Regions from separate parts of the Homo sapiens genome. Here all the other regions are linked to region 1. Evidence: fine-mapped expression QTL. A gene starts in region 1. Each other region holds a variant in brackets. All regions are shown on one strand. Distances are from middle to middle.

Region 1 (8,147 bases):
TATAAATCTCCACTCTGGGGAGACACAGCCCCCCAGCAGCCGCATAAATTCATAGACACAGGTGTCAGAACCGCAGAAGTCACTAGATCAATTGTCCTCCTTACAGGAGATAGGCACTGGATGACCGAAGAGGACAGTTTTCTTGCCTCTTTACCCAGAGCTCTCTCCTCCTTTCCGCATTGATGCTATTATTAGTATTATCGGCATTAATAATAATGGAGAGGTAACCAGCTGCGCATTAGGCACAATGTTCCAGGACCAGCACTTCCTTCGTTAGCTTCTGGGACTGCCTGGGTCCCGCTGGGTCCTCTCCCGCGGCCGCAGCGGCTTCGGGCCTGCTCTCTGGTTCTGTGCATCCGGTGGTCTGTCTGTCGCCGGTCACGTCTGCAACCCGCGTCCTCCCAGCTCACACCGGCTCCTGCTCTGAAAGCCGAGAAGCTCGCCGGCTGCGGGCGGGTTTTCCAAGTGGGCAGGGGTGGGGAGGAGGGGCGCGGGCGGGCGGGCCCGCGGAGGGAGGAGGGGGCGTCGCGGAGGGGAAGACCTCGCATTGTAATCCAATGACATTGCCAACGTGGGGGTGGGGGCGCTGGCCTCGGCGCGCTCTCCGAGTTTTGGCTGCCCGCCCAGCTGGGAATAACTCTCTTCGCATAATTCGCGTGTTTACCAGGCATGAAAATTCTTGCTTTCGCCCCCCTCGCATAAGACCCCTCCTCTTCCCCACTCCCCACCACCTCCGCCCCTCGCAAGTGAAACTCTGTCTAAAAAAATATTGGCCCGGGGCACAGAAAGTTTTGCATAAATTCATAAGTGATGAATGGCTGATTTTAACGTTATTTGGGTATTTGTCAGAACTTAACAAATATACATGGGGACGGCAGTTCATAAACTTAAACATCTCAATATCCCCTTTCTTCTGGAAATAAATTACGTTTGTTTGCCCAGCTTGGAGTCTTAAGGTAGCCGACATTAGGAATATTTTAAAAGCCATCATCCATCGAGCATGTCTCCCAGGCGCCAGGAAGATTAAATGAAAGAATCATAAGATGGAGGTCTTTAACTTTTAATCCTTTTACAATGAAGCCTCAGATAGTCGCGGGGGCAGGGTGCCCTCTCTGGGGGGAATAATGCCGTTATTCCTCGGCTCTCAGTTAATGAATACCCTAACGTCTGTCCCACGGCTGACGGAGGCAGCGCCGGGGAGGGGGCTCGGCTCCGGGGCCAGGCTATTGAAATGAGGAGCCATCGAGGCTGCGTCGGGAGGGAAGAAAGCGCCGGGCTGGAGGGACAGGGCGGGCGGGGCCGGGGGCATTGAGACTGCGCTGGGGACCAGGCGCAGGTTTGAAATAATTAGCATAGATTCGCCGGGACTCCGGACTTGGGGGGTTGGGGGGGGTGGGGGGTGGGGTGGAAGGAACGCCGGGAGGGAGGCGCGGAGAGGTGGCAGGGAGGTGGGGAGGGAGCAAAGGAGAGCGACTTTGGAGTCCAAGATAAATAAAGAGAGCGCTGAGCAGTGTCAGGAGGCTGGCCCACGTGGAGCTGTGAGGACGGGCGCCACTGGGGACTGAGGCGGAGGGACGCATGCGAGAGTCAGGCGTCGGTCCCAAGGAGTTGGCTTTTTAAGGGGTGGGGTGGGAGTGATGTTTTGCACGTCCCTTTAATGGGTTACGTGCCTTCTGCCCCTATCTAATCTTAAAGCGCAAAGATTCCGGTTCCGATTTCTCCCTCCTCCCCACCCCTCAAGGGGAGAAAGTGCCCGAGCACAGGCATACTCTCTTCCCAAAAGCAGATGCCAGAGGTGGTGATTTTCACCCAGATTCGGACCCCTCCGAAACCATGGCCCTTAGTCTTCCTTAGGTCCCCGGGGAGAGGGGAGGCCAGTGTCAAATCTCCCTGATATCCCCAGCACCTCCGGCCGAGGGCCTGGGATTTCGGGGCTCGGACCTGCAAGATCCCGGAGGCTGTGAGCCTTGTTGATTCCAAGGGATTGCCTCAGTTCGTACCACCGTAGCTTCCGGGCATGCAAAGGGTTAACATGGGCTGGATATTGAGGTGGGGGGTACGAGGCGGGAGGGGTGGCGGGATCTGGGTGGGCGCGCTCTGATCTCCCCCCCTCCCCATTCCTCGGGGGTCAAGTTTCAGCGGCACTCCGCCCCCAGGGTAGGTGTGAAAGACACGTGTCCCCATTGTGAAGGGCCTGTCAGGCAGGACAAAGCGGCCGCCCACCCTCCCCCCGCCCCTCGGCCCAGCCTGGGGTCAGCTCCAGGGGGCCGGCTGGGTGTCGAGGTCACTACAGGCCCGAGCTTTGGTGACATAGGGGGAAAAGCTAGGAGACTAGGCGGAGGCCACGTGATGTTTTAGTGAGGGGTTAGAGAATATCGCCCCCCCCCCCAACGCCCTCAAAAAACTAAGTCACCTCCATCATACCACAGGAGGGGAGTCCGAGGGGATGAGCCCCTTCCCCAACGGGGTAGGAGGCACAGCAGCATCCCCTACCCGCCCCCTCCCACGCCCTCCCACCCCCATCAATCACCAACACAGAAAATCAGTGTGGAGCGCAGTCGGTTTTAGTGGTTTTCTTTAATCCTGCTCTGCACTTCTTTCTCATTTACTACACGGGATATTATAAAGAATAAATAGCAGATACTCTTAATTTACAATGATTAGTCATTCCATTTGTTCTCTATATTTACAATAACTGTAAAATAACATTGAACTCTATAGCTTCTTCGAGGTCCAAGGAAAACCAAAACACTTTCCGAAGAATGGAAAATAGCTTTTAAAAAGTCCTCTACAAAAGTTCCCCCGTCTCTTTGTACTTCAAGAAAAAAATAACTTTTCCCCCCTGCTTCGCCATGCGAAGGGCACTGGAATATAAATAGCAGGTTAACATTATTAGCAACAACCAGAATAAGTCTCTCTTTTCTCTGTTCTTTTTTTTTTCTTTTGCTTACTTTTTTTTAAAAATACAGTAGAAGCCGGTAACTTTTAACGTATAATACTGACCTTTTAATAAGTAAATTAAAACTGGGACCGTATATACACACACATATACATTCCTACACAGTTAAACAGTGCATTACAGGAACCAGAAAGCTAGGTCTCTGTAGCCCAGAAAAAAAAAAAAAAAAAAAAAAAAAAGTTCATTGAAAACCCTCGCTAGAGGGTGGTGGAACTGGTTGGAGGCGGTGCAGGGGGCGTCGGTGGGGATCGATCAAGTGTCCGGGTGCGGGCAGGGGGCCCCCGAGTTCTAGCACGAGCACTTGCACTCGGAAATGATGGGGTACTGGATGGGAATCCAGCCGCAGCGCTGGCCCCCGCGCCGCTGACAGCGCCACCGCAGCACCGTGAGGTGCACGGACTTGGACGGCTTGCACACCATGCCCTCGGGCACGGAGCACGAGCGCTTACTGAAGCAGCTGCCCACCTTCACGTAGCGCGGCCAAAAGCGGCTGCCCAGGTCGTTCCACGCGTACAGCACGGGGCAGAATGTCTGCGACCACAGCCACATCTGTAACTTCCTCCGCAGCTTCTTGCTTAGGCGCTGCTTCTTGCCCTGGGCCAAGCCCTCGGAGAACTCTAGCCCTTTGATCTCGCTCGGCATGGCCCCCGACGGCCGCTGCCGCAGCAGCTGGTCCAGCTCCGCCAGGTCCTCCGCGCCCCCAGCTGCACCCCCGCCCCCGCCGGGCCGGTCCTCGGGGGGCGAGGTGGCCATGAAGCCTGGGTCGTAGTGGCCCCCGAGCAGCGAGCGCAGCAGCGTCTCGTTCAGATCCTTTTCCTTGGGGTCAAAGATAGGGTCTGGGTGTTCGATGAGGTCCACCAGGGGCAGGTTGTCGCTGGGTGCCGGGCGGATGTGGAGATAGTGCTGGCCGCCGGCCGGTGTCGCCCGCAGCCCCAGGACCACCACCAGGGCGTAGAGGGTGACCCCTAGGCTGGGGCAGCGCTCCATGCCTCTGGCGCGCGCCCGGGGCTGCTGCTTCGTCCCGCGTCCCCGGAGGAGAGCACGCCGAGCCCGCGGCGCCGCCGCGCTCCCCCGTCTCTCCGGAGGCGGCTCACCCGAGGCTGGGCAGGCGCAGGGCCGGCAGCATGAGCCGCCGGGAGAGCCCTTCGCGCAGCGCCGGCTCCCACCGGGGCGGAAGAAAGGCACACAAGTTGGCCGCAACTCCTCTCCCGGGTCTACTGGGGAAGGCGGCCGCGGCTGGGCATCCGAAATTACTCCAGGGCGACCGCGGGGCGCGGGAGGCGCCGGCTCCTCGCTGCCTTCCCGGGCCGGCGGCGGCGCAGGGCGCGTGGACGAGCCGCTCTCCCCTCCTCCTCTCGCTGCTCTTCGTCCGGCCGCTCTGTGCAAGCGCCGCTGGCTGAGCTGGTTCTAGGGGCACTTCCCTCCGCCTGCTCCGGGCTCCGCGGCCGGCTCTGCCCGGCGGACTCCAGCGGCGGCGGCGGCGGCGGCGTCCGCGCACGTTGGCACCGGTTTGTCTGTCTCGCAGGGTCCAAGCCTTTAAATTTCCTGCACTTTCAGCTCCATCACCATGGAAACCACTGACTCTCTCGGCGTTGCCCCCTCCCCCTTCTTCCCCCCAAACAACAACCCCACCCCCCACTTCTCCACCCCCGAGGAGCTGGAGCTGCACAGGCTCCGGGGGAAGCCGCCTGTACTCGCCGCGGAGGCGGCGGCGGCGGCTTCGGCAGCGCCCAGGGCTGTGCCCCGCCGGACCCAGATGCCCCGGGAAGCCGACAGTCCGGCTGCCCGCCGGAGCTCACAGGCGGCGGCGGCGGCGGCGGCAGCGGCGGTGGCGGCGGCGGTGGCGCTTGGCAGGTCTCCGCGCAATTTTCTCTCTCCCCCACCACCCACCCCCCTTCTCCTCCTCCTGCAAAATGCACCGCCCCCCTCCTTTCTCCTGGAGCAATGCAACTGGGGCTCTAGGCGCCCCGCCAGGGCCAGTCCTGGGGAAAGCTCGCGGCGGCGCTGGAGCCGGGCTGGAGGGTGCAGAGCCGGTGTTTGGGGAGGGGGGGCGGTGCTTGAGGTGGGGCTGGAGGGTTTCTCACTAGCTGGGTGCTTTGCACTGGGAGGGGAGCAGCGGGGAAGTGCTGGGGGCTCGTTTCTCGGTGCATGCAGTTCGGAGCAAGAAATTTCTCCATGTGCATGGAGCGTTTTCCCCGAGCGCGTCTTCTTCTCTCCCGGGCTCTTGCTCTAAGTCCCCTCCCCCCAACACACATATATACACACACACACACACACACACACACAGCCCCTACCCCACCCCCCTTTGCACCAGGGAGTCCGAGAGCCGCAGCGTTGCGCAGCGTGATGTAATTCTTAGGAAGCACTCCTGTCTGTCTGCCCCTCGGGCCCACGAGGGGGTTCCGCTCCTCACCATCCTCCTCCTCCTTGGCCGGGTCCTGCACCCTGAGTGGCCTAGCCTCAGGGGCGCGACTGGCTCGCCTGCGGCTCCCCTAGCCCGCCCGGCTCCGCGCGGCCGCCGCTCGGCTCCCTGGGGGCGGCGCGCCCTCTGCTGGCCCGCTATGAGCCCTGCACCTGGCGCTGGCGGGGGCGGCCGTGCGAGGTGGGTCGGCCGCTGCCCGCTCTGCCCAGTTCAGCTTCTGCTTCTGTGTCCCTGTCACTTTGTGTGTGTCTGCGTCTGCTGACTGGTCCGTTTTGGTTCTGGCTATTTTCCCGAAGGTCTCCAGGCCCCCAGTGTAAACAAACTTCCTGAGATTCCTTCTCGGTCCCCTCAAATTTCACAAGAATGCGTGCAGCACCTTCTGCCTCAGGTAAATCGGTCTCTGGTCTCAGTGGGTGCGAGTGGGGACCAGAAACTTGAAAGGTGAGCTGACAGCAGAGGCACCTGAGTCTTGCCCGGGGTCCACCCTGATATAACTCGGACAAGTCATTTTTCTCACTTTTCGCATTAGTGACGTAACTATTAATAGATTTCTCTTCCAGCCCTACCTTTCTGTGATTTTAAATAAACCTCCACGATGCTTTCTCTTGTTCAGAAGCAGTTTCTCTTTGATGGGAGATGGGTACTGAAGGGACACCTCCGGTTAATTTCCCCTTGGACGAGGAACTCAATCTCAGCTTTAAAATGCAAACTCAGTTTTCTTTGTGGTGAATGTGATTGGAATCTGGAAAAAGCTGGAGAAGAGAGACTTGGAGTGGATGACTCAAGTATTTGCCAGTCTTCCATGGAGTGGGAGTTAAGAGGTCCCATTGTGACAACCTAAATCGCTTAACTTTCTTTCCCCAAAGATCTGGTTTTTCCTTTCAACCTGCCCCACCCCAACTCCCAAAGTTTATCATCTGTCTAAGGAAGAAAACACTTTGTTGCATACTACAGTCTTTCTGCAAAACCTCTATTAAAAGGGGTGGGCAGTTTCCGCTGAAAGCGTTTCCCTCAATTTTAAAGTCTAGACAACTAGAATTAGACTATCAAGGGACTGCTCAAAAGGAGATCTTGCTTTGATGGATACTGGAGTTAACAACAACCCATTGGTTGTTTGAATTGGGCTGACTTTGAAATAATGTGTGATTAGAACCTGGTACAGGCCGGGCACGGTGGCTCATGCCTGTAATACCAGCACTTTGGGAGGCTGAGGCAGGCGGATCACTTGAGGTCAGGAGTTGGAAACCAGCCTGCCCAACATGCTGAAACCCTGTCTCTACTAAAAATACAAAAAAAAAAAAAAAAAAAAAAAATTAGCTGGGCGTGGTGGCAGGCTCCTGTAATCCCAAGTACTTGGGAGGCCGAGGCACGAGAATCACTTGAACCTGGGAGGCAAAGGTTGCAGTGAGTTGAGATTGCACCACTGTACTCCAGCCTGAATAACAGAGTGAGACTCTGTTCCCACCTCCCCAACTCCTCCCCCTCCAAAAAAAGAACCTAGCACATAGTAGGCTCCTAAGCATACCTCTTTCTTTTTTATGTGCTTTATGGGGATTCAGCACTAGTTTGTTTCCTTATGAAGATTACATGTTCCAGAGCAATTTTGTCACTGATGTGAATTAACTAAGAAAATTATTTAGTGGAGTTCAAGGGCTAAACTCTAGCTCAGCCCTCCTGAGATGGTAGGTTCCAATTAATGACATTATATCATGCTGGTTTCTGTTCTTTTAATCCCCCTCTTCTCTCCTTCAAATCACCTATTTTTGCTTGAAAACCAACCCAGATCCTTTATTTAGTTGGGCTGAGCAGATTTGACTGAACAGCAAAAAAGGTCCCTCAGGAACCAGAAACAAATCATGCTTGAGAACAGATTGGGTGACCTGTTTATGGAGTATCTACTGGGTGAAGACCATCAGGAAAAATACAAAGAAGAAAAAATTCATAGTCAGTCTCCATCCTGCAAGACTTTTGTAGTACAGTTAGGGGAGATATGACAACCACAAGAAGAAATAGTAAAAGGACATCAGAAAAATTTATAAATTCCCATAACAGTGTGGACTAGTTTTTTATAACCTTTTCTTTTTAAAATCCATGTCCCCTTTTGATAGATATAACAATATCATGCTCTTCTTTGAATGTTGTTTAAAGTTTTTAAAATACATTATTATAACCAAAAAGAAGCCCAAGCAATTATGTTAGCTATACTGTTTTCAAACCATATCTACCCCTCTTCAATGTGAAGTTCTGAAATGCCACATTTGGGAAGCTTGCAACTCCTAACTCTGTGCCACACTGGAGTAGCCCATGCGCTTAGGTACTGAGTGAACCTGGGGATGTTGGTATCAGAGACTAGGAAGTACTAAGACCTTAATGGTAGAGCTGAATTTTAGCTGAGCTTCATGAAGAAGGATGTATTTATCTGAGTATGGAGAGGAAGAGATTTGAGAGATAGGATATACATCTACATGAAGAAGGGAACCACACTTGTATGAGGGACAGCCAGAAAATCTGGGGATATGAGAGGTGGAAGAGGAAATGTCCCAGACAGGGAAGCACCACGACTTTTGGACCAGGTGGATTTAAGTTGGAATTCTGGCTGTGCCCCTCACCGGCTGTGTTACCTTTTTAAAACAGTCATCTTAACCACCCCGTTTCCATTCTCTCATCTGTAAGATGGGGATGATACACACCTCTCAGAATCATGCCACGTAAAAGAGGTAAGGAATGCCTAGCCTAGTAAGGTGCCTGGGGCAGAGCCTATATCGG
Region 2 (8,147 bases), 100 kb before region 1:
GCTCCACAATATTAAGGTGGATTGCAACTCCCTCCCACAAACCTCACAAACACATACTACCATAAGATGAAAAGTAAAAAGATAGAGATTCTGTGAAATAGAAAAAGAAAGGTAGTTGAATGAAATGCAGTAAAAGAAAATTTAGTGGTCGGGCACAGTGGCTCACGCCTGTAATCCCAGCACTTTGGGAGGACCAGGTGGGTGGATCACTAGGTCAGGAGATTGAGACCATCCTTGCTAACACGGTGAAACCCCATCTCTACCAAAAATACAAAAAATTAGCTGGGCGTGGTGGCGGGCGCCTGTAGTCCCAGCTACTTGGGAGGCTGAGGCAGGAGAATGGTGTGAATCCGGGAGACGGAGCTTGCAGTGAGCCAAGATGGCACCACTGCACTCCAGTGTGGGTGACAGAGCGAGACTCCATCTCAAAAAAAAAAAAAAAAAAAAAAGAAAATTTAGTATACATAGTGTGTCAGGGTGCTGCTGTGGATAATAGTAACACCACCTATCATTTATTGATGACCTATTATATGCTAGGCACATGTGATCTATCTATCTATCTATCTATCTATCTATCTATCTATCTATCATCTATCTATCTATTATCTATCATCTAAATTTCACTTCCACATCTGCCGTATGAGGCAAGTGGTAATTAACTCTCTTTTACAGATAAGGTTCACAGAGTTTAAATGACTTGCCCAAGGTCCCATGTCTTGTCAGTGGGGACACTTGCAGGAGAACCTACATTCACATTGTGAGATCCTGAAAGGAAAGATGCAAAATCCACTCTCAACATTTTCAGTGACCAACGCAAACATGAGGACATGACCCTCTAACACGCTCGCTCACATCACCTACCGGGTAAAAGCAGCCACTTGCTGTTTGCCTTGACACTGAGGTCTGAGAGGAGACTCCTCACAGGTCTTCTAGGGAGACACTGAGTGATGTTGGGAATACTAGTGATATCCTAAGCCCTAGCAGTGATGCTGGGGGTGATATCCCTGGGAGAAGGAGAGAGAGGAATGGTGAGAAGTCTCTTGGGTTTTAGCTTGGCCGAGGAGGCAGTAGGATGACCTTCCTATGAGTGCACAGAGAAAAGAGTTCATGGTCTGCAGTTTGAGGATGTTGAGACTCAACATCAGTGGTAGCCTGCCTGCCTCTCTTCTTCCCCCCTACCTCCTTCCTCCCTTTCTCACCCTCTCCTTCCTTCCTGAGGGTGAATTAAAGAAGACAATAATTGACTTTAAGAGCCATCTTTTGTTTTCTGCTTAAAACAAAATAACTGTATCAAGTCCTACGAGGGGATTAAAAGTGATTTCTCGAGAGTTAGATCACTTACGTAAGAGAAGGATGCTAATGAGTGAAGTAACACTGAATTTAACAACAAGAAATATCATCACTATCAGAATTTTTTGAGAGGCAGTACACGTTGATGGCCTCTTACTATTCATCCCCAAATTAAATCATGGACCCAATGACACTAGGTGGGCCACGTGTGGCCTGTGGGGTGGGTTGCTCATCATGGCTTTACATATTTTGGGTAGAATTCACCCAATGACTTTGCGCTGAGTCCCTAGGAGCACCCACCCAAACCAGCTGTTTAAAAAGTGAGAAATAAGCCTATCTACAGATGGTTAGTTGCCTCATTCTCTCTTCCAATCAGATGAGCGGATTCTGACTTTTAAGTGCACCCCCCCTTCCCTGCCCCAGCAATCCACCATATTGCCGTAAGCATGTTTGTACCAAGTGTGGACAGCTGCCAGGGTTCCAGGCTCCAGCCCCTGGTGCTTTCCCTGCTCCTTCAACTTGCTGCTCTGCATCTGAACCCTGGCTCCGCCTCCGATTTCTTTATCTGTTCTGCTCCTTCCCCTCCCTCTGGCTCCCCAGTTCGTGCCTGGCCCAGCGCACTGCCTTGATCTTGTTCTCCTGCTGGGTACAGGCCCAGGCTGAGGGTTCCCAGCACAGGGATTTGAAAAGTGGGCTTCCATAAAAAATGATGAGTTCATGTCCTTTGTAGGGACATGGATGAAGCTGGAAACCATCATTCTCAGCAAACTATTGCAAGGACAAAAAACCAAACACCGCATGTTCTTACTCATAGGTGGAAACTGAGCAATGAGAACACACGGACACAGGAAGGGGAACATCACACACCGGGGACTGTTGTGGGGTGGTGGGAGGGGGGAGGGATAACATTAGGAGATATACCTAATGCTAAATGACGAGTTAATGGGTGCAGCACACCAACATGGCACATGTATACATATGTAACAAACCTGCACGTTGTGCACATGTACCCTAAAACTTAAAGTATAATAATAATTAAAAAAAAAAAAAAGAAAAGTGGGCTTCAGAGTTGGGGGAGCTGGAGTCTAATGTCAGCCTACCATCTGTTAGCTCTGTGACCTTAGGCAGCCCATGCCACCTCTCTGAGCCTCAGTATACTTGTCTAGAAGGTGGAAACGATTAGATCTACCTCACAGAACTATTGAGAGGGTTGGATGTGAGAGAAGTTGGCACAAGCCTGGTAAGTAAGAAGCACTCAATAGGTACTGGTTATTATTGTTACCAGTGTGAGATTTTTTTTTTGACCAAATCTCGCTCTGTTGCCCAGCCTGGGGTGCCGTGGTGCAATCTCGGCTCACTGCAACCACTGCCTCCCAGGTTTAAGCTATTCTCGTGCCTCAGCCTCCCCAGTAGCTGGGATTACAGGCGTGCACCTATTTATCATGCCTGGCTAATTTTTGTATTTTTGGTGGAGACAGGGTTTCACCATGTTGGCCACACTGGTCTCGAACTCCTGACCTCAGGTGATCCACCCACCTTTGCCTCCCAAAGTGCTGGGATTACAGGCGTGAGCCACTGCACGTGGCCACCAGTGTGAGATTTTGAGTCCATCTGCATATGGGGTACTGGGAGCAATACAGAAAACCAATGCTTTTAAACACTGCATTCTCAAGGTTTTTTTTTCCAAATGTACAACCTCATAATAATAATTCCAAGGTGTTATAATACTCTCAATTTGGTGATGAGGAAACTGAGGCATAAAGGGAGAAATGAGGACACTTAATGTCACAGCCGGCAAATGGTGAAGCCTGGACTTGAACCCAGGCCTCCTGAGTCCCAGTTCCGGAAAGCAACACAGGCGGCTGCTTTGATCTTCCAAAGCTGCTGTCCAACAATGTGCCAAGAGGAAGACAGAGCAGAGCTGCTCCTCTGGCCCGGCCCCTCCGCCCTGATTGCCGGGTGGCGGGCCTTGCAGGAGGAATTCGAGCGGCTGGCTTGTGCTCATGCCTGAGGAATGTCTTGAGAAGTCGTGCCTAAGCCCTCTGTATCTGACTCATCATCTCCCCGTCTCCAGGAGTGTCAGAGAAGAGCTCCCTT[T/A]ATCCCTCCTGTCCTCGGTCCCAGGCTTTCATTTGTCAAACTAAAAATATTCCCTCCGGGAACCTCCTTTTGCCAGAGGCTGAACGAGGTATAAGGGGAAAGGCATTTTAGTGTCACTTCCTGACAGCGCCTTGTTATTGTTCCTGGGCCAGAGGAGCAGAGCCGGGTGGCAGGAGCAAGGCGCCTCTGTCATTCTTGGGCCGGGGCCAACCTGTTCACCTTTCTCCTGCAAGCAGCCTTCCCTTTTTCCTCTCTCAAAGCTCCAGACAATAGTCCATCAGTCTGACATGTAGCCTTGTCCCGGTCCCTTGGGGCTGTGTGTGATTCATGCCAGGTGAGGACTACAGAATGCCAACTTCATTTCCTTTGCAGCCTAAGGGCTGGCACAGTTTGCACTTGTCTGCAAGGCTAGTTTACTGATAAAGAGACGTAGAGCTCGAAGGTAAAGGAAAAAAAGGGTAAAACAGATGAAGGTGGAACTCCCCAAGTAGGACAATGGCAATATGGGGAAGCCATCAAGATTTGTCTCCTGTTTCTCTCCTTCCTTTCCTTTCTTCGTTCTGTCACTTCTGGCAGCCTGTTGGCCCCAGGGCTGATCCCAAGAGTCCATGACCTTGACTTGGCCTAAAATCTTGGCTCATAGCCATAGAGCCACCTCCCTGGCCCCACCAGGGAACCCACTTCCTCGGTGGAAATAGAGCATAGTGAAATCAAAGGAGCACAGAATTTGGATCCAGGCCCCCCTTACCAACTAGCTGTGTGAATTTGAGTAAGGTATCTCATTCTCTGAGCCTGTTTCCTCATCTATATGGGTGGATAATAGTACCCATTATACCAGGCTATTGTGAAGAATAAATAAGGTGGTGTGTATAAAATAAGTCATACTATGCCTGTCAAACAGTAGGGTCTTGAATCATCATCACCATCATTGTTCCTCCAAGACCTTGCAATGGTGCCACTGCACCACTGGAATCAGAAGACCTTGTTCTAGTTTCAGCTCTGCCATTAACCAGCTGTATGGCTCCAGGCAAATCCCCTAATGTCTCGGAATCACATGTATTAATTTGTAAAATAAAGAAGAATTTAGGCTTGATTTCCTCTAAGATGCTTCTAAGATCTAAAGTCTGTGGTCATCGAGATACCTGAGAGTAGACATTCATGGAAAATTTCATTCTTTTAAAGAATATAAGAATAACCTTAGTCTAGGCAACATAACAAAACCCCATCTCTAAAAAAATACAAAAATTAGACAAGCATGGTGGCACGTGCCTGTACTTTCCGCTACTCAGAAGGCTGAGGTGGGATGATCACTTGAGCCCAGGAGGCAGAGGCAGTAAGTTGAGATTGCACTACTGTACTCTGGCCTGGGTGACAGAGTGAGACCCTGTCTCAAAAAAAAAAAAAAAGAGTAAATTGGCCAGGTGCAGTGGGTCCTGCCTGTAATCTCAGCACTTTGGGAGGCTGAGGTGGGACGATCAATTGAGCCCAGGAGGCACAAGCAGTAAGTCGAGATCACACTACTGTGCTCTGGCCTGGGCACTTTGGGAGGCTGAGGTAGGAGGATTGCTTGAGCTCAGGAGTCCAAGACCAGCCTGGGCAACATAGGGAGACTCTGTTTCTACAAAAAATAAAAAAATTAGCTGGGCATGGTGGTGCCCTCCTGTAGTCTCAGCTACTTGTAAGGCTGAGGCAGGAAGGTTGCTTGAGCTGGGGAGGTCAAGGCTACAGTGAGCCGCGATCATGCCACTGCACTGTAGCCTGGGTGACAGAGTGAGGCCCTGTCTCAAAAAAAAAAAAAAAGAAAAAAGAAAAAAGAAAAAAAAAGTAACTGCTTGCTGTGGACTAAATTGTGTCCCCTCCAAATTCATAAGTTAAAGCCCTAACCCCCAATGTGACTATATCTTAAGATAAGATCTTTAGGACATAATTAAGGTTAAATGAGGTGGTACCCTAATTTAATAGGACTGTGGCCTTATAAAAAGAGGAAGAGCAAGAAATCTTCCCCTCTCCTGCCATGTGAGGACCCAGAGAGAAGGCAGCTGTCTGCAGGCCAGGTGGAGAGTCCTCACCAGGATCCGAACTTTGCCAGACTTTCGTCTTGGCTTTCCAGCCTCCAGACTGTCAGGAAATAAATTTCTGTTGTCTAGGCCACCCAATCTATGGTATTTTGTTCTGGCAGCCCAACTTGACTAATATACTGCTGAAGGAAGGCCATCTGGCAAGGGAGCATTGAGGCAGAGAACGTAGTATCCAGCAAATCCTGGATAACCCTCATTGAACTAAAGAGGAATGATGGAGTTTCTACAGGCAGAGGGAGAAGCCACACACACCCAGCCAACTTTGCAGTCAGAAACCAGCTGAAACACTGCTATTAAAAGAAGAAATTTGGTCGGGCTCAGTGGCTCATGCCTGTAATCCTAGCACTTTGGGAGGCTGAGGTGGGCAGATCACTTGAGGTCGGGAGTTTGAGACCAGCCTGACCAACATGGAGAAACCCCATCTCTACAAAAAATACAAAATTAGCTGGGCGTGGTGATGCATGCCTATAATCCCAGCTACTCGGGAGGCTGAGGCAGGAGAATCGCTTGAACCCAGGAGGCAGAGGTTGCTTAGGCAATAAGAGCGAAACTCTGTTTCAAAAAGAAGAAGAAGAAGAAGAGGAAGAAGAAGAAGAAGAAGAAGAAGAAGAAGAAGAAGAAGAAGAAGAAGAAGAAGAAGAAGAAGAAGAAACTCTATTTTCAAACATGAATAGTGATTAACTCAGGCTCTGGAGTGAGACAAGTTGAGTTTGAACCTGAGCCCTGTTGCATGCTGGCAGAGTGACTATAGAAAACTTAATTGACCTCTTTGGGTCTCATTTCCTCAGCTGTCAAATGAGTCGTTGCTGCTACTTCCTAGCTCTGTAGAGTAAATGTGATAATCTACACAACGTGCATAGTCCAGTGCTCCACACATAGTAGTACTTGATAAGTGTCGGCTGCTACTGGTAATAATGTCATATTGTAAATAATAATTATTAATTAATAATAGTTTCATTCATATAACTTGCTTCACGTGCTTAAGCTAAAAAATAAGCCCACGCTTCCTGTGTTATTCAAGCTGAAACTGATCATAACCCTGTCTCTCCATCAGAAGATTGCCTTTCCTTCCTGGTGTCTACGCTCCCACATTGAACTGAAGAGGAATGATGGAGTTTCAACTTATAGTTGCAACCCTCCAAATGCTTATTCATATTAGATCCAGTCCCACTGGGGATTCTATCAGATGCAGGTGTGCCACCAGGAAGCTGGTGAGGCCCTAGCTGTCCTGGGTCCACCTTTGCCACGTTAGTTGCTGGAGCAATGAATCTCCACCTGACATTCTCAGCTCCGGCTCTAGTCAAAGTCACGGCACGTTTTTCTGCTCCTTCTTGGGAGGGCCTTCATGTCCTTTCTGCTCAAGTGACCTCACTGTACAACCTCAATTCTTTAGGTTTTTGAATAATCTAAAATCCAAAAGCATTGATCTAATAGCCTTTTCAACAAATGATGCTGGAAAACTGGACACCCACATGCAAGAAACTGAAACTAGTGAGAGGCCTCCCACTCTTCATAAAAAATTAACTCAAATTGGATCCTAGATCTCAATGTAAAATATAAAATTATAAAACTCCTGGAAGGTAACACAGAATAAAATCTAGATAACCTTGAGTATGGTGATGACTTTTTAGATACCACAATAAAAGCATGATCTGTGAAATAAGTAACAGATAAGCTGGCTTTCATTAAAATTAAAAACTTCTGCTCTGTGAAAGACAATGTCTAAAGAAAGAGAAGACAAGTCACAAACTGGGAGAAAATATTTGCAAGAGACACATCTGATAAAGGAATGTTATTCAAAATATACAAAGAACACTTAAAACTCAGCAATAAAAAAGCAAACAACCTGATTAAAAAATGGTCCAAAGACTTTAACAGACACCCCATCAAAGAAGATATACAGATGGCAAATAAGCACATACAAAAAGGCTCTGCATTATATGTCATCAGGGAAATGCAAATTGAAATGACAATGAGATGCCACTACATACCTATTAGAATGGCGGAAATCCAAAACACTGATAACACCAAATGCTGGTGAGGATGTGGAGTGACAGGAACTTTCATTCATTGCTGGTGGGAATGCAAAATAGTATAGCCACTTTGGAAGATGGTTTGGCAGTTTCTTACAAAACTAAACATACTCTTACCATGCGATCCAGCAACCACACTCCTTGGTTTTTAACTAAATGAATTGAAAACTTATGTCCACACAAAAACTTGCACACAAATGTTTGCAGCAGCTTTATTCAAAATTGACAAAACTTGGAAGCAACCAAGATGTCCTTCAGGAGGTGAATGGATAAATAAACTGGGGTACATCCAGACAGTGGAATATTATTCATCGCTAAAAAGAAATGAGCTATCAAGCCACAGAAAGACATGGAGTAACCTTAAATGCATACTACTAAGGGAGAGAAGCCAAACTGAAAAGGCTACATACTGTAGGATTCCAACTACATGACATTCTGGGAAAGGCGCAACTCTGGAGACAGTGAAAAGATCATTGGTTGCCAGGGGTTAGGGGAGGGGGAAGGATGACTAGGCAGAGCACAGAGGATTTTTAGGCCAGTGAAACTATTCAGTATGATATGGTAATGGTGGATACATATCATTATGTATTTATCAGAGCCCACAGAATGTACACCAAGAGTGAACCTTCATGTAGACTGTGGACTCTGG
Region 3 (8,147 bases), 160 kb before region 1:
AGTTGAGATTTGGGTAAGAACACAGCCAAACCACATCATTCTGCCCCTGCACCCTCCAAATCTCATGTCCTTACTTTTTTTTTTTTTTTTTTGAGACAGAGTCTCACTCTGTCACCCAGCCTGGAGTGCAGTGGCGCGATCTCGGCTCACTGCAAGCTCCACCTCCCGGGTTCACGCTACTATCCCGCTTCAGCCTCCCAAGTAGCTGGAACTACAGGTGCCCGCCACTACGCCTGGCTAATTTTTTGTATTTTTAGTAGAGACAGGGTTTCACCGTGTTAGCTAGGATGGTCTCGATCTCCTGACCTCATGATCCGCCCGCCTTGGCCTCCCAAAGTGCTGGGATTACAGGCGTGAGCCACTGCACCTGGCCCATGTCCACACATTTTAAAACTTATCATGCCTTCACAACAGTCCCCCAAAGTCTTAACTCATTTCAGCATTAACCCAAAAGTCCACAGTCCAAAGTCTCATCTGAGACAAGGCAAGTCCCTTCTGCCTATGAGCTGTAAAATCAAAAGCAAGCTAGTTACTTCCTAGATAAAATGGGGGTATAGGAATTGAATAAATACAGCTGTTCCAAATGGGAGAAATTGGCCAAAACAAAGGGATTACATACAGGGCCCATGCAAGCCTGAAATCCAGCGGGGCAGTCAAGTTTTAAAGCTTCAAAATGATCTCCTTTGACTCCAGGTCTCACATCCAGGTCACGCTGATGCAAAAGGTAGGTTCCCATGGTCTTGGGCAGCTCCGCTCCTGTGGCTTTGCAGGTTACAGCCTCCGTCCCAGCTGCTCTCACAGGCTGGTGTTGAGTGTCTGCGGCTTTTCCAGGCACATGGTGCAAGCTGTCAGTGGATTTACCATTCTGGGGTCTGGAGGACGGTGGCCCTCTTCTCACAGCTCCACTAGGCAGTGCCACAGTAGAAACTATCTGTGGGGGCTCTGACTCCACATTTCCCTTCTGCACTGCCCTAGCAAGGTTCTCCGTGAGGGCCCTGCCCCTGCAGCAAACTTTTGCCTGGGTATCCGGGCGTTTCCATACATCTTCTGAAATCTAGGTGGAGATTCCCAAACCTCAATTCTTGACTTCTGTGCACCTGCAGGCTCATCACCACATGGAAGCTGCCAAGGCTTGGGGCTTCCACCCTCCGAAGCCACAGCCTGAGCTGAAGGTTGGCCCCTTTCAGCCGTGGCTAGACAGCTAGGACACAGGGCACCAAGTCCCTAGGCTGCACACAGCACGGGAACCTTGGGCCTGGCCCACAAAACCATGTTTTCCTCCTAGGCCTCTGGGCCTGTGATGGGAGGGGGCTGCTGTGAAGGTCTCTGACAGGGCCTGGAGACATTTTCCCTGTGGTCTTGGGGATTAACATTAGGCTCCTTGCTACTTATACAAATTTCTGCAGGTGGCTTGAATTTCTCCCCAGAAAATGGTTTTTTCTTTTCTATAACATAGTCAGGCTGCAAATTTTCTAAACTTTTACACTCTGCTTGCCTTATAAAATGGAATGCCTTTAATAATACCCAAGTCACCTCTTGAATGCTTTGCTGTTTAGAAATTTCTTCTGCCAGATACCCTAAATCATCTTTCTCAAGTTCAAATTCCCACAAATCTCCAGGGTAGGGGCAAAATGCCACCAGTCTCTTTGCTAAAACATAACAAGAGTCACCTTTATTCCAGTTCCCAATAAGTTCCTCATCTCCATCTGAGACTACCTCAGCCTAAACCTTATTGTCCATTTCACTATCAGGCTTTCGGTCAAAGCCGTTCAACAAGTCTCTAGGAAGTTCCAAACTTTCCCACGTTTTCCTGTCTTCTTCTGAGCCCTCCAAACTGTTCCAACCTCTGCCTGTTACCCAGTTCCAAAGTTGCTGCCACATTTCCGGGTATCTTTTCAGCAATGCCCCGCTCTATAGGTACCAATTTACTGTATTAGTCAGTTTTCACGCTGCTGATAAAGACATACCTGAGACTGGGAGGAAAAAGAGGTTTAATTGGACTTATAGTTCCACATGGCTAGGGAGGCCTTAGAGTCATGGCGGGGGGTGAAAGGCACTTCTTACATGGCAGCAGCAAAAGAAAATGAGGAAGAAGCAAAAGCGGAAATCCCTGATAAACCCATCAGATCTCATGAGACTTATTCACTATCACAAAAATAGGACGGGAAGAAGACTGGCCCCTATGATTCAATTACCCCCCTCCCCCCGGGTCCCTCCCACAATATGTGGGAATTCTGGGAGATATAATTCAAGTTGAGATTTGGGTGGGGACACAGCCAAACCATATCAACTTATATTTGCAAATATAATAGTGATATAATTATTTGGGGCAAATAAAGGAGGTGAGAGTGATGTAAAACAGTAAAATTTGCTTCCTGATGTCATAAGAAAGAATTAATAACCACTATATAAAATTAACAAATCAAGAAACAGGTAAATAAAAATACTCAGAGATTTGAAATCAGCTACCAGAAGAAACAAATAAAAGAGATAAAAAGTAGTTATCTTTGGAGTATGGAACTAAGGGTGGCAAGGGATGAAACACTTCTATATTTATCTTATTTTTTAACTGTGTGCATTCTTAATTTTACTTAAAACAAAAGGCAAAAGGCATAGGTTTTAGTTAAGCAATTCATATGCTATTCTAGTGGATTTGAAATCCCTCTTTGACACTTGCTAACCGTGTAGGTGCCTGGCCCAGATGTGGGGGGTAGGAAATGTTAATTTCCTTTCCCACCTTCTGAGGGTTCGTTCCTGTAATCACCAGAAATGTACACTTCCTGGGCTATTTCATTCAGCCCCCAACCTTGTCCACTGAACAAGACAACTGAGTCGCTACACCAAATTCTAGGATCCACTTTGTCACACCAGGCCTCCTTACACATATGACTCCACCTCCAGATACATAATAGCACTCAGTGAACATTTGGTGAAACTGAATAAAAATGCCTGTAGAGACCAAATGCCTCATGCAGAGACCAAATGCCTAGAGATACCCAGTGCACACTGTCTGTGAACTTCTCTTTTGATGCTGCATAGAAACAGCACCATGCTTATTCCTTCAGCATGTGTCTGTGCAGCTTCTACTATGTCCGTGGTAAGCAAGTGAGTCATGGCCTCAGCCTTCATGGAGACAGACATTCAGTAAGTCGGTATGTAATTACACACTGCAATA[G/C]GTGCTATGAAAGAAAAGAACTGGACTCTTAAGAAAAAATAACTTTATTGGAAGGTCAAGGGGGACTTTTCAGAGGAAGTGACATTATGAGCTCAGGACATATGAATCTCAGAGTTCAAGATTTAAAAAAAGGAGTGTGGCTGGGCGCGGTGGCTCACGCCTGTAATCCTAGCACTTTGGGAGGCTGAGGCGGGCAGATCATGAGGTCAAGAGATGGAAACCATCCTGGCCAACATGGTGAAACCCCGTCTCTACTAAAAATACAAAAAAATTAGCTGGGCGTAGTGGCGCATGCCTGTAGTCCCAGCTACTCGGGAGGCTGAGGCAGGAGAATCACTTGAACCCGGGAGGGTGGATGTTGCGGTGAGCTGAGATTGCACCACTGCATTCCAGCCTGGCGACAGAGCAAGACTCTGTCTCAAAAAAAAAAAAAAAAAAAAAAAAAAAAGGAGTGTTCTAGGCAGAGAGAGCTGCATGTGCAAAGGTCCCGAGGTGGAAAAGCTGAATGTGCAAGAGTGCTGCTTCTCACACTTCACTGTGCACCTGGGGGTCTTATTAAAAGGCAGACTCTGTCTCAGTAGTTCTGGAGTGGGGCAGAACTCCTGAATTTCCAACCCACTCCTAGGTGATGCCAGTAGCATCATGTTTGAGGAACTGAGAGATTTATGGACAGCATAGTGAGCAAGGGTGAGAGCAAGGAGATGGGACTGGAGGAGGCAGAGACCAAATCATGCAGGAGCTTGGGGGCCACCTCCTAAATGTCAGCAGGAGAGTCACACAGTCTGATGTGGCAATTGACAAAATGCCTCTTAAATTTTTAAAGTGCTCTGTAACGTTGCTGACAATGGTGGTGGTTGAATTAGACCCACTCTTGGGAGTTTACAATCTTGGGCTTGTTCCTTGTTGCTGGAGAACCCTAAAGAGCCAAGGGGTTGCTAGAAGTATTTATACTAGAGGCTGGCAAATCACACAGCCAGGAAGTCCACCCTGCCTCTCTCCTCTCCCCTTTCGTGCCCCACTGGACCTGTTGTTGAGTTCACGAAGGAGGCAGTGGGGCATGTTGGAAAGACTCACGGTGAAACCTCAGCCCGCTACTTGCCTCCTATGTATCTTCCTAAGCTTGAGCACGCTCTTAATGTGCCTGAGCCTCAGTTTCCATATCTGTAAAATGGGGATGCATAAACCTCTCTGGCAGGGATGTTGGGATGATTGGAGATAATGTAGGAAAAGCATGGCCATTCAGTAACTATTAAGATGGGTTATTCCTGATTTCTATTCCCAAGTGCTGAATTTAGGAAAAGCTCACAACACCTTCTGCACAAAGTTTAATGAGTTGAGGCTGTCAGGACCCCCCCCCTTTTTTTTTAACATTGAAATGCCATCCCCCAGCAAAGTTCAGGTGAAAAGGATTCCCTGGTCTTAAGTAAACCAGTAGTATCTTGGGTTAGACTGGCAAAATACAGGCCAAAAGAAAAAAAAAAACCGTAAATTTTTTCTTTCTGAAAAAGCAAATTCTTAATAGAAAAAAAAAAAAACAGCTGAGCTCCACTGCTTGGGTCTCTGCTGACCTCTCCCTCTGCTGTCTGTCTGTCTGTCCATTGGCCTCTGTCATTTCTACTCAACAACAGGATGCCTTCCTTCTCCCTCCCCCTCCTCTCTGCTGCAAACAACCCCGGAGCCACTCTGTCTGCCCTGTGCTCTGTTTAAAGGAACAGACACCCATTTCTCACAGAAGAACTGTTAGGTAAACAATAACATATTTTTTTAAACCCAGAAAGTGGCTCAACACACTCAGCATGGACTGACTGTCTCTAGCATTCCCCGGCTAGCTTCAGGACAAAGGTCTCCAGAGGAAGGATGCTTCTTTTCTTTTCTTTAAAAGAGTAAAAGAGGACAACAGGAAACCCAGGCAAGAAAGGCCCTCAGACTTGAGGCCAGCAGACAGGAGCCTGGCCTCGGCCTAAAGAGCCCTGGGAAGCTGCTCTTGGCAGCCCCGGCCTGAGTGGCAGGAGAGGATGGCTTTTGCTCCCTGAGGCCCTGTCCCTAAATGCACCTCCCAGCAGTGTGTGAAGTCTCCCCCAAGCCCTGACTTCACTGCACCCTCCTAACGACACCGGGAGTTATACCTTATTACCTCTGTTTCACCGATGGGGAAACTGAGGACCAGAAGGATGAAGAAAGTTGCCCAAGGTCACATAGAATAAAGTTCACCTCAGGACTCACACCCAAGTCTAGCTGACTCCAAAGCTCATTTTGGAATCACCCACAACATGGACTTCCTGGATCCCAGACTTTTGGATGACTTGACTTCATCCTATAGCCTTTCAAGAGAGAAAAGGCTCTACTTTCTAGATCTGTAGGATGGGACCTGGGGAAGTGAGCAGCTTTGGGTTACTGGTGGGCCAGGAATAGGGCTGGGGTTCCCAGGGTCCTGACTCAAAACCCAAGGCTGGCCATTTCAATAAGAGAAAAAACCAGACCGGGTGTGGTGGCTCACACCTGTAATCCCAGCACTTTGGGAGGCTGAGGCTGGTGGATCACTTGAGGTCAGGAGTTCGAGACCAGTCTGGGCAACATAGTGAAAACCCGTCTCTACTAAAAATACAAAAATTAGCCAGGCGTGGTGGAAAGTGCCTGTAATCCCAGCTACTTGGGAGGCTGAGGCGGGAGAATTGCTTGAACCCGGGAGGCAGAGGTTGCAGTGAGCCGAGATTGTGCCACTGCACTCCAGCCTGGGCGACAGAGCCAGAGTCCGTCTCAAAAACAAAAAACAAAAAAACCTTAAAAAATCAATAAAAGAAAAATCCAAAGAACAGGCTGCGGTCAGCCCCTCCGTTTCCTTGCTTGGATGTGCTTCTCTGAAGAAGCAGAAGTCTTCCCTCCTGCTACCCTATGTTTTTCTGAGCTGCGTCCACAGCTGCCATCCACAGAGGCCAATGGCTGCACACCCATGTTCCCATCTGTCCGTAACAACAGAATAATTCCCAGAAAAATAAAAATACAGAATATGTTCTCAAACCAAGAAGGAAGAAAATGTTTTTGGTTTCTTTGAAACACTGCACCTATCTGCTGATGGGGATAAGTCGACTGGGAGAGACAATGTGGGGTGCAGAGCAGAATGCCACTGGCTTTGGGCCAAGGCAAACCTGGGTTCAAGAGCAGCTTGCTAGTGTGGGTCCAGGGAAAATCCCTTGTGTATTCTGATGCTCATTTCTTCATCTGTCACACCTGCACCGACAGGTTATGGAAGGTCTTCTCTGTGCCAGGCCTTCTCCAACTATCCTCACAGCAGCGTGCAGGATGGCAGCAGGCTTATTTTTGCAGGGACGAAACGGAGGCTAGAGAAGTTTACTAGCTGGCCTAAGATTGGCCTGGCTCCAAAGTGAATGCCCTTAACTACTAAGCTGAATCGGGTATGAGCATAGAATGTGCAGGGGACAGCATAGGCGCTCAGTCAATGCTGATTGATTTCCTTGATTCCTTGACAAATCAAATGGAATCAATAAATCAATTCTGAGCAAAGGGTTCTAAGTAAGGCTTTGGTGAGGATAAAGGAGCACTTGGTGTCTCAGCTCCCTTTGTCCCTAGCACCCTAATAAACTCTGTAAAGTGAGACCAGAGATGAGATTTGATCATTAGAATGGAGCTGAATGTTGTCATCTTTATTTTTCCTCCCTAAGAAGACAAGGTATTGCCAGTGGAGGGTCTTGACTATGAGTCATCCAGGTTCTTGGTGCATTGAACAAGGAATTGGACAAAATGCACAAACAAAGCAACGAAAGAATGAAGCAACAAAAGCACAGATTTATTGATGTGAAAATATACTCCACAGAGTGGGAGCGGGCTCAAGCGAGCAGCTCAGGAGCACGGGTTGCAAAATCTTTAAGTACCTTTTAGAGATTTCTTATTGGTTTCACCCTATTGGAGGCTGAAGTAAAGTTACACCCTATGCAAATGAAGACTGGGCCCATGAAAAATCAGCCCTATGCAAATGAAGAATTGGCCCACGACCAATCAGAGGCTGAAGTGAAGGCTTCCTGTCTCCAGACCCTATTCTCCTGCCTCAAAGGGATACCCAAGTTAATTCCCTAGACTGGAGGAAGAGGGAACAGAAGAACAGAGCTGTAGGGAAGAGGCAGTTTTCATGCCAAACAATGCAATTGACAATGATGACAACAGGAACCAGAATGCACTGAGTGCTTACTATGGGCAGGCACTGTGCCAAGTGTTTCACTTAATGGACATGCTTTGAGAGGGTGTGATGGCTGTTCCCCTTCCAGATCCATGCTTTGCCCTTCCTTCTATGCAGGGGAGGCTGGACCCTTATAGACCACATTAACTGGGCTAGCTTGCCCTCTGGCTTCCTTTTGGGCTTGTCCAAGGGGAGATACTATTAGGAAATCAGAGGGCGAGAAGAGAGGTTGGGGTATTTCCTTTCTGCCCCGTCTATGCCACAGCTCTGTGTCTCTCACAGTGACAGCTCTTAGCGGTGGGTCCCTCCCTGTCACCAGCAAGAGCTGGTGGCCTCTCAGCCCTGAGGGAGGTAACAGCTTTACATTATCTAGTCCTTGGGCGTCTCAGCATCCCACATTGGGTCCCTTAGCCCTGCTCCCACCTCCATAAACAGTTCCTTCATGAAGTTCTCTTCAAACCCACCCTACCCTGCATCTTCTGTTTCCTACAACCCACCAAATCCTTCTTTCTCTGTTTTGCAGAGGAGGAGGCTGAGGCTCAGGGTAACAGATCTTGCCAGGGCTGCAGTGCTTGTAGGAGACATAGTGGTCTTTCCAATTTCACTATCTCATACAAGCTGGCAGGCTGGATGGGCTTCCCCTGGTCCTACAGGGGAGTATACATTGGGCATATGGAATATACATGGCTTCCGAAACAAACTCCTGGGTGCCTGACATCAGGGCTGCAGGGAGGCCAGAGGCAGGTGAAAGTAGGTATGTGGGGTGCAGGGTGGGGGTGT
Region 4 (8,147 bases), 24 kb before region 1:
TCTTGTAAGGCATGCTGTAGAGCTTGGCTTCCTTCTGTGGAGTGACTGGGTTTTTAAAGCAGATGTTTTAAAAAAATGAGATGGTATTTGCATGACACTAACGTGGAAGAAACAGAAAGGTGCAACTGGAAGTCAGGAAACCAGCTAGGAAGCTGTTGCTATAGTCCAGTGGGGAAAAATTCGGGTCTGAGCTGAAGACATGGACAGGGGAGGTGAAAAGCAAGCCAAAGATCAAGAAGTGTTGGTCTTGAAATGTTAAAATATACACTAACCACTTGCTTTTTGAAAAGGCTGGTTATTAGAATCCTCCTTTGAGGGGGCTACACACACACAGAAGTGATAGTGTTGCCTTTATCTGGAAAGTGAACAAACACACCCTACAGAAAAATGGTAGAATAAAAGTATCCAACAAAAGAGTAAATATGTATAATAATTACAGTATTGGGCCGGGCACAGTGGCTCATGCCTGTAATCCCAGCACTTTGGGAGGCCGAGGCGGGTGGATCACTTGAGGCCAGGAGTTTGAGACCAGCCTGGCCACCATGATGAAACACCATCTCTACTAAAAATACAAAAATTAACTGGGTGTGGTGGCACATGCCTGTAATCCCAGCTACTTGGGAGGCTGAGCCATGAGAATCACTTGAACCTGGGAGGTGGAGGTTGCAGTGAGCTGAGATCATGACACTGCACTCCAGCCTGGGTGACAGAGCGAGAATCTGTCTCAAAAAACAAAACAAAACAAATTATAGCACTGGTGTAGTCTGAAATAAATGCATGTATTGTGTAGGATGCAAGTAGGTAGGTATGTAAGAGTTGGATGGTTTTAGCTTGGGGATCTCTTGTGAGGTTGTAGTCAGGATTAGGTGGAAGTTTTGGTTTTTGGCTGGAGAGTCTGCTTCCAAGATGGCTCGGTCCTGTGGCTGGCAAATTTATTTTGGTGTTAGGCAGAAAGCCTCAGTGTCTCACCACAAGAACCTCTCCATAGGGCTACTTGAGTGTCGTACCAACAGGCTTCCCCCATGGGGAGTGATCGAGAGAGCAAGGTAGAAGTAGCGATGTCTGTTATGATCTCGCCTTGGAGGTCACATGCTGTCACTTCCACAATATCCTTTTGGCTATTCAGGTCTGTCCTCTTCGCTATGGGAGAAGACTGTACTAGCATATGAACCCAGAAGGGGGGATCACTGAGAGCCATCTTGGAGGCACAAATGGGCCTTGGTCTACCTGAGAGTGGGCTAGGTAATGTGGTGCAAAGGAATGCAAGCAAGATTTGGAGGCAGAAATTGGTTGATTGACCAGTAGGATCCATGCCTTAGATCCTCATCTGTAAAATGAGGTGCATAATCAAAACCCTGATGGCTAGTGAAGGTCATTTGAGACAAGGCTTGTAAAATGCTTTTTGGGAACCATAAAGCATGATAGTATGACATACAGTGACTGCATAAATAAAAGGGATCATTATGAAGTCCCATATTTTATCTGGATGGGAGGTTTAGCCTTGATGAATCTCAGACCTTCAAGAAAGATACTTGATCCTTTATTTCTGTGGCTGTAGAAATCCAATAAATAACATTTATTGATCTTCTACTTCTACATGCCAGGAATGGCACCATAATAATTTCATTTCATTCCCTCAATGATGCTGAGAAATGGAATCTATAAACCACATTTTATAAGTGAGAAAACCAAGGCTCAGTGAGATTAAATAACTTGCTCTGAACATGGGAGAGCTGGGGACACCAGCCCAGTCCTGCTGGACCCCAACGCATAAGCATGAGGCAAATGGGAGATGGGCTTGGTGGGACCTGAAAAAAGTGTCCCCACCCTGCCCAGATCTGGGGCCTGGGATGTCCTCATGGCTGGGGTTTTGCAGGTCTCTGGCAAGGGAGGGTGAACGGTGAGTGACAGGCCTCTCCTACCCCTGCACATTCTTGGTCTTGAACTGATGAGGGGTCTTCTTGTGTGTGTCTGTGTGTGTGTATGTGTGTGTATGTGTGACCACACTGGCAACCGCTGCCATCCCAAAGCTGGGGATTAGGGTGACGAGTCCTACAGTGCCCTCCAGAGTTGGACGTAGGCCAGGGCTGCATTGGGCCTTGGCCTCCTTGGAGGACGGCTCCCAGACCATTCTCGGAAAAGCATTTGCAGCAAGGCTACTCCAGGTGCCAGGCCGGGCCATCAATCCCTCACTCTTCGGAGCAGTGAGTTTATAAAGTAGCAATTAAATAAGAGCTCTGTAAGTGCTTCTGGGAACTGCCCTGAATGCATTTTCCAAACATAAATAACGGGGACCTCCACTCTGAGCAAAGCACATACAGAGCAGAGAAGCAGTGCCAAAAAGAAGGGAGCCCTGTTGTGCTAACGAGTTGGGCTACGTGCCCCTGGTGTGCACGTGTGCTCCGTGTAGGTGGCAAGTCCATTTGTCTTGCCTGCCTGGGTGGCATGTCAGCCTGTCCGGACAGTTCGTGGTGAGGAGATGGTGGCTGTGACACTTGTTCCCCTGGGAAGGCAAAACATTGTTATTTCAGAGATAGTGATAATGATGGTGGAAGCAATGATGACAGCTGTTATTCATTGAGCACCTATGGTGAACCAAGAGCCCGCAGATCCCCTATTACTGGGAGGATTAGAGACTTGTCCAAGGTGGAAAAGCCTATAAGGTGGAGGGAAAGATAAATGAGAACTCTTCAGCAGCTTACATGTATTAGGCTCTTATTATACGCCACAAAGTGTTCCAAGAGTTTTACTTGCATAAGCTTACTTAGATCTCCCAACAAACCTGTGTACTAGGTACTCTTCTTATCCTATTTTGAAGGGGAGAAACTGAGGCATGGAGAAGTCATGTCTCTTTCCCAGGGTCACACTAAGCCAACATTCAGGTGCAGGCAGACTTGCTCCAGAAACCCTACTCCTAACCATTTCTGTGCTGCATTGGTCCTGAGCCCTGGTACCGGGTGCCATCCTATCTTTTCAGTTCAGGTTTGATTATTGTCAACAGTCTGTCCCTCCCCAAGTATGGGCAGCAATGTCTTTCTCAGAAAACAATACTCCCCTAAGTCCCCCTGCCTGTCTCAGTGAGCCCTCCTGGTCTTAGGCCTAGCCTTGGCCCGAGTCTTCCTCCTGTCCCCAAGAGCTGGCTCTCCCAGCCATGAAGGGATCCCGAAGGGCCATGCTCACTCTGCTCTCCCACTTCGTGCCTTTGCCCATGCTGGTCCTTGCCCCTGGATGCTCTTTCCCTGCTTGTCCACCTTGGGATTTTAAGTCATAGATGAAAGCTCACTCACTCTTAGAAGTATTTCCTGACCTCACCTCCACTTTAACCCCCACCGTCCAGCTGAATGCGTCCATCAGAACATATATCAAATTCTTATTATTGTTGATTTTCTAGTCTGTCTCCCCTGAAACAGTGTTGCATGTCCTGGGATGTATAGCTCCTCACATGGTGCCTGGCACATAGTAGGGATTCAATAGATATTGATAGGTAGGTGGAGCCATTTTCCAGAAAGAGTGGACACATCAGATCACACCTGATCCTGAGTTGCTAAGAGCTCCAGCCATGACTATGCCTGCTCCCCCCAGAGCAATGTGCAAGGAACAGGACTGAATAGAATGAGCCCTGACCTTGGCTCTGCCATGAACTTGCTGAGTGGCCTTGACCAAGTCATTCCACTTCTCTAGGCTTCCATTTTCTCATCTGTATAACAGGAACAATTATATCTTTTTGGCAGATCACCTGAGGCTTGAATAGGATACAGAAAACAAAGGCACCCAGCACATCATTGGAACTTGATAAATATTAATTTTCCTCCCCCTTCCCCTTACCGTGAAATGGGCTCTTGGTTTGGGGATAATTGAGTGGCACTGTAAGACACCCTTTGCAACAGATGCCTCTGCAGGTTTACCATTTTCCCTCCACGTCACTAGGGTATTGTCTCATTGTTTTCTGCAGAAGACCCTGCCACCACTAAGCTTCTTCCCTGCCTTTCTTGGGGTTCTGAAGCAGCCTCTGGCCACCAACTCTGTCATGCCACACCTGAATGCTGTCTTCCCTGCAGTCACTCACCAGAGAATCCCATCGCAAAAACCCCATCAAGAATCTAGCCCCTGTTCATTCCAGAGTCAGGAGTCAGTGATTTCCCTGTCTTGGACTCCATCTAAGTTGCCAGTGATTAAGAAACTCATATATTTTCACAC[A/T]CATTAAAAGAAACATGATGTTCACTTTTCCAAGAAAAGCCATCCTTGTTTGTAGACCCTGTAATATATTGGGAACGCCTCTTAATTGGCTTCTAGGTCTGAGTGTCAGAAGTCAGACCCAAGTTTGTTTATTGACACAAGAAAAAAAATAAAACGTCGTATAATTAGTTGAGTGACTGACTCTAAATTCAGTAACTCCCATTGGTATGTGGCCTTGTCAGGGTTTAAGATTCCATTTTGGGTTATGAAAGAGGCCGGGTCCTAGGTAGTCCAGACGCGGGCCGCACTGCATCATAGCTATTGTACAAATGGGCTCAGTGTGCTGTTTGTGTTAAGATGGAAAACTTTTACATGTTTGATTTTTATGCAAGTCAATTAACTTGTTTTTTATAACTGTAAGGGCTTGCTTTGCAAATAAGATTACTTACCACTATAAATTATGGGAACATAGGGGCCTATTCAGACAAAATGTTACACACCCCTAACCCGTGCACCAGGCTGCATGCCGGCCTTCTGCAGGGGGGACAGCCAAGGCGAATGGGACAGGGAGGTGAAGGAGGAGGGAGGGGTTATTTTGGTGGATTCTGAGGGGCCCTTCCAAGAAAGATGCAAAGGGGGAGTGGGGAGATCTGGGGGCAGAGATTAGGAGTGAACCGCAATACTCTTCTCTGTGCTCACCCCCACCCCAACTCTCCCAGGTTGACCAGAGCTGGCCAAGACCTTTCCTTACATGGCAACACAGGAATCTCCTTTGAGGATTTTTTTTCCCCCAAATGTTTGCTTCTTGGTGACAGCATATCCCCCTGAAGTTGGAAAGTTGGAGAGGGCTAAGTCTGGGCTTTATCCTCACTGTCATTTGTTGTCCTTCCTGCATGGTGGTTCCACGCCCATTCCAGCATTCAGTGGGCAGCCCCCTCCCAAAGCACAGGGAAGGAGCAAGGTTAGGACAGAGGGAGGGAGAGGAAGAGGAGCAGGCATTCCTGGGGGGCTGCCACTCAATGGTGGAGAGGGGGCTGGGAGGGTTTCAGGCAGGACTGGGAAAGAGCAGGGCCAGTCTTTGGTCCCTCTGACTTACTCCTTCCCTTCAGGTCCTTAGCAGAGGGCACTGCAGTTCTATACATAGGTGTTCTGGAAAGCCAAGTTGGGACTCTTGTTTCTCAAGCCCTTTTGTGAACTTGGATGGATTCCTTCCTGTTCTAGGTCTCAGGTTTTTTCATCTGTGAAATGTGAGCAGAAACCCCAGCCCGGCATACCTCCTACGGGTAGGTTGTGATCCTGATGTGATCCTCAACAAGGTAATTTTGCAATTTTGCATTCCAATCCCATGGACATGTAGCAATGTCCAGAAACATTGTAGCTGTTACAACTAAGGGGTGGGTATGGGCATCTAGGAGTTAGAGGCCAGGAATTCTGCTAAACACCCTGCAAGATACAGGACAGCCCCTGCTCCTTGCCTTCCAACAAACAATTGTCTGGCCCAAAATGTCAAGAGTGTCAAGGTTGAGAAATTCTGTTTATCCAAAGCATGTGAAGGAAAAGGAGACCTTCTTGGTGTGATCAGTATTTGGGACAAGATTTAATTTACTGAAGAATCAATATAGAATGTCTAGTCACTCAGAAATAAAGGGATGTCTTCAACAGTGGCAACAATACAATCCTTCACAAATAAATAGGACATTGCTGCTGATTCAGTGCTTTTAGATGCAAATTTCACCATTAGAGTTCCACAGTAACTGTATGGCGGTAGCTAGAGAAATAATAATTATTTGAATAATCCTAATAAGGATTATGATATTATTCCTATTCTGCTGATAAAGAGACTGAAACTTAAACATATGAAATCGGTGGGGCGAAGTGGCTCACGCCTGTAATCTCAGCACTTTGGGAGGCAAGGCGGGCAGATCACCTGAGGTCAGGAGTTCGACACCAGCCTGGCCAACATGGTGAAATCCCGTCTCTACTGAAAATACAAAAAATAGCCAGATGTGGTGGTGGGCACTTGTAATCCCAGCTACTCGAGAGGCTAAGGCAAGGTAATTGCTTGAACCTGAGAGGTGGAGGTTGCAGTGGGCTGAGATCACACCGTTGTACTCAGCCTGGGCAAACAGAGCAAGACTCTGTCCCAAAAAAACAAAAAGCAAAAAAGTATGAAATCATTAGTCTAAAATCACACAGCAAAATCTTCAAGCACAGGGTCTTTTTACATATTTGTTGAAGAAATCAGGACGCATATAATCATATTATCATGAAAAAACTGATTTGAGGCAAAGCCAAATGACATTGTCAGGCATGACTTCACTGCACTTGAAAATGCTTCCCAAAGGGAGGCCTTCCTTTTTAAGATAATTGTGCTGTCCTCCACACACCTTGAGTACTTTGTACCCACTCTTATTGGGTCATAGGTTGTGGCTTCTATGTCTGTCACTTCTATTGAATTGGGGGCCCTTTCAGGGTAGGGGCCGTATCTTAATCATGTTGACAGGCCTCTTCAAGCTGCAGTTTCCTCTTCCAGAAAATGAGACAATGGCTGCAACCTTACCAGATAGACCTCCATTAAATGTCTGTGGAGCACTGGGGTGAAATAAGAACGCTGGCTTTCCCCAGTGCCCCAAGCTTCTGTGCCCACCCCTTCATTCTTTCCCTTGGCTTGTTTGATATTGTGCCAAGTGGCAGAGAAGGCAAAAGATTTGTAAAGAGTATGAGAAGAGTCATTGAACTCTGAGGACCGTATTTTATTTTTTGAAATCTGGCTTATGGAAAACTGAGAATCACAGGTGTTAAGGGGAACTGATCTTTGAGAATCCAATTTTCATAAGAAATAGAAACCAGTGGTGAGATTTCAACTTGAAAATAAACTTCAGCTCTGGCTCATCAGATCATCCAAGGAATCAAGTGTCCCCAAAGAGATGAAAAATCAAGCTGTTACTTGGCAGATCTGGAACTCACAGAACTGTTAGCACTCAGCCTCTGCATTTGGAAATGGCAAGATTCAAATCTGGCCTGATGTGTTCTCCCTTAGGCTGCTCATGATGTGTGTCTGCTGGATGGAGGCCTCAGAAAACTCATTTGACATCTTGGCTGTAACTTTGTCCAAGTCTGTGTCTGATGTCATTATGCAATCAATTCTATACTAGATTCTGCCGGGTAAGATCTTAAAAGACAAAAGCTTTGTTCTCCAGATCGTCACTGGTTTTGAGGACGTACCTTGTTCATTCATTCATTCATTCATTCTGCAAATTATTTATTAGAGCAAATTAACTTCTGTGACTCTCAATCTTCTCTTCTACATAACAGGAATAATAAACCTTGCTTCATAGGGTTAAGTTTTAGGCATATGGCTGGTACTCAAGAAATGATTATTATTAGATTATTATTATTATTAGATTCTTCACAGAAGTCTTAGTAGTAGTCAAAGCATAAAAGACATTTAAAGGCTGGACGCTGTGGCTCACATCTGAAATCCCAGCACTTTGGGAGGCAGATGTGGGAGGATCACCTGAGGTCAGGAGATCAAGACCATCCTGGCTAACACGGTGAAACCCCATCTCTACTAAAAATACAAAAAATTAGCCAGGCATGGTGGCGGGCGCCTGTAGTCCCAGCTCCTCGGGAGGCTGAAGCAGGAGAATGTCGTGAACCCAGGAAGCAGAGCTTGTAGTGAGCCGAGATCGCACCACTGCACTCCAGCCTGGGCGACAGAGCGAGACTCCGTCTCAAAAAAAAAAAAAAAAAAAAAAAAAAGATTAAGTAGGGTCTACCCCTTGCCTCTAGTCTGGCATAGTAGAATTACTGTTATTTTCTCATTTTTTTAGTTGAAGAAACTGAAAGTGAGGTAAAGAGTCTTATACCCATGAACTGGACATTATTATTTCTTTCCTTTCACAAATGAGAAAACTGAGGCATAGAGATGATATTTAACTCTCCCCTAGGGACATATCACTAATCAGCAG

Alleles and levels. Alleles are on the strand shown, and positions count from the first base shown. SD is a standard deviation of normalised expression in the study named. Not every link is listed here.
For the expression in esophagus muscle of the gene that starts at base 4,471 in region 1, A is the high allele of the variant in region 2 and T is the other (moderate effect, 0.46 SD a copy in GTEx).
As copies of G replace C in region 3, the expression in fibroblasts of the gene that starts at base 4,471 in region 1 goes down (small effect, 0.23 SD a copy in GTEx).

The links.
Region 2: its variant is fine-mapped to the expression of NOG in esophagus muscle (GTEx, PIP 0.94).
Region 3: its variant is fine-mapped to the expression of NOG in fibroblasts (GTEx, PIP 0.99).
Region 4: its variant is fine-mapped to the expression of NOG in whole blood (TOPMed, PIP above 0.99). The same link has a PIP of 0.9 or more in blood mononuclear cells.

Annotation. Positions count from the first base shown.
Region 1 is chr17:56,590,023-56,598,169 of GRCh38, reverse strand. NOG (noggin) reads right to left here and starts at 4,471. Exons shown (of 1, transcript NM_005450.6): 1 at 2,559-4,471. The coding sequence starts at 3,946. The coding sequence ends at 3,248. RefSeq lists silencers at 2,096-2,296, 5,409-5,618.
Region 2 is chr17:56,694,835-56,702,981 of GRCh38, reverse strand. No RefSeq gene overlaps it. Among named protein-coding and RNA genes, the nearest start is that of NOG, 110 kb to the right of the region's middle. RefSeq lists enhancers at 2,306-3,282, 3,059-4,258, 3,283-4,259. The variant T/A (reference allele first, on the strand shown) is at 3,388.
Region 3 is chr17:56,751,709-56,759,855 of GRCh38, reverse strand. No RefSeq gene overlaps it. Among named protein-coding and RNA genes, the nearest start is that of C17orf67, 78 kb to the left of the region's middle. The variant G/C (reference allele first, on the strand shown) is at 3,176.
Region 4 is chr17:56,613,770-56,621,916 of GRCh38, reverse strand. No RefSeq gene overlaps it. Among named protein-coding and RNA genes, the nearest start is that of NOG, 24 kb to the right of the region's middle. The variant A/T (reference allele first, on the strand shown) is at 4,198.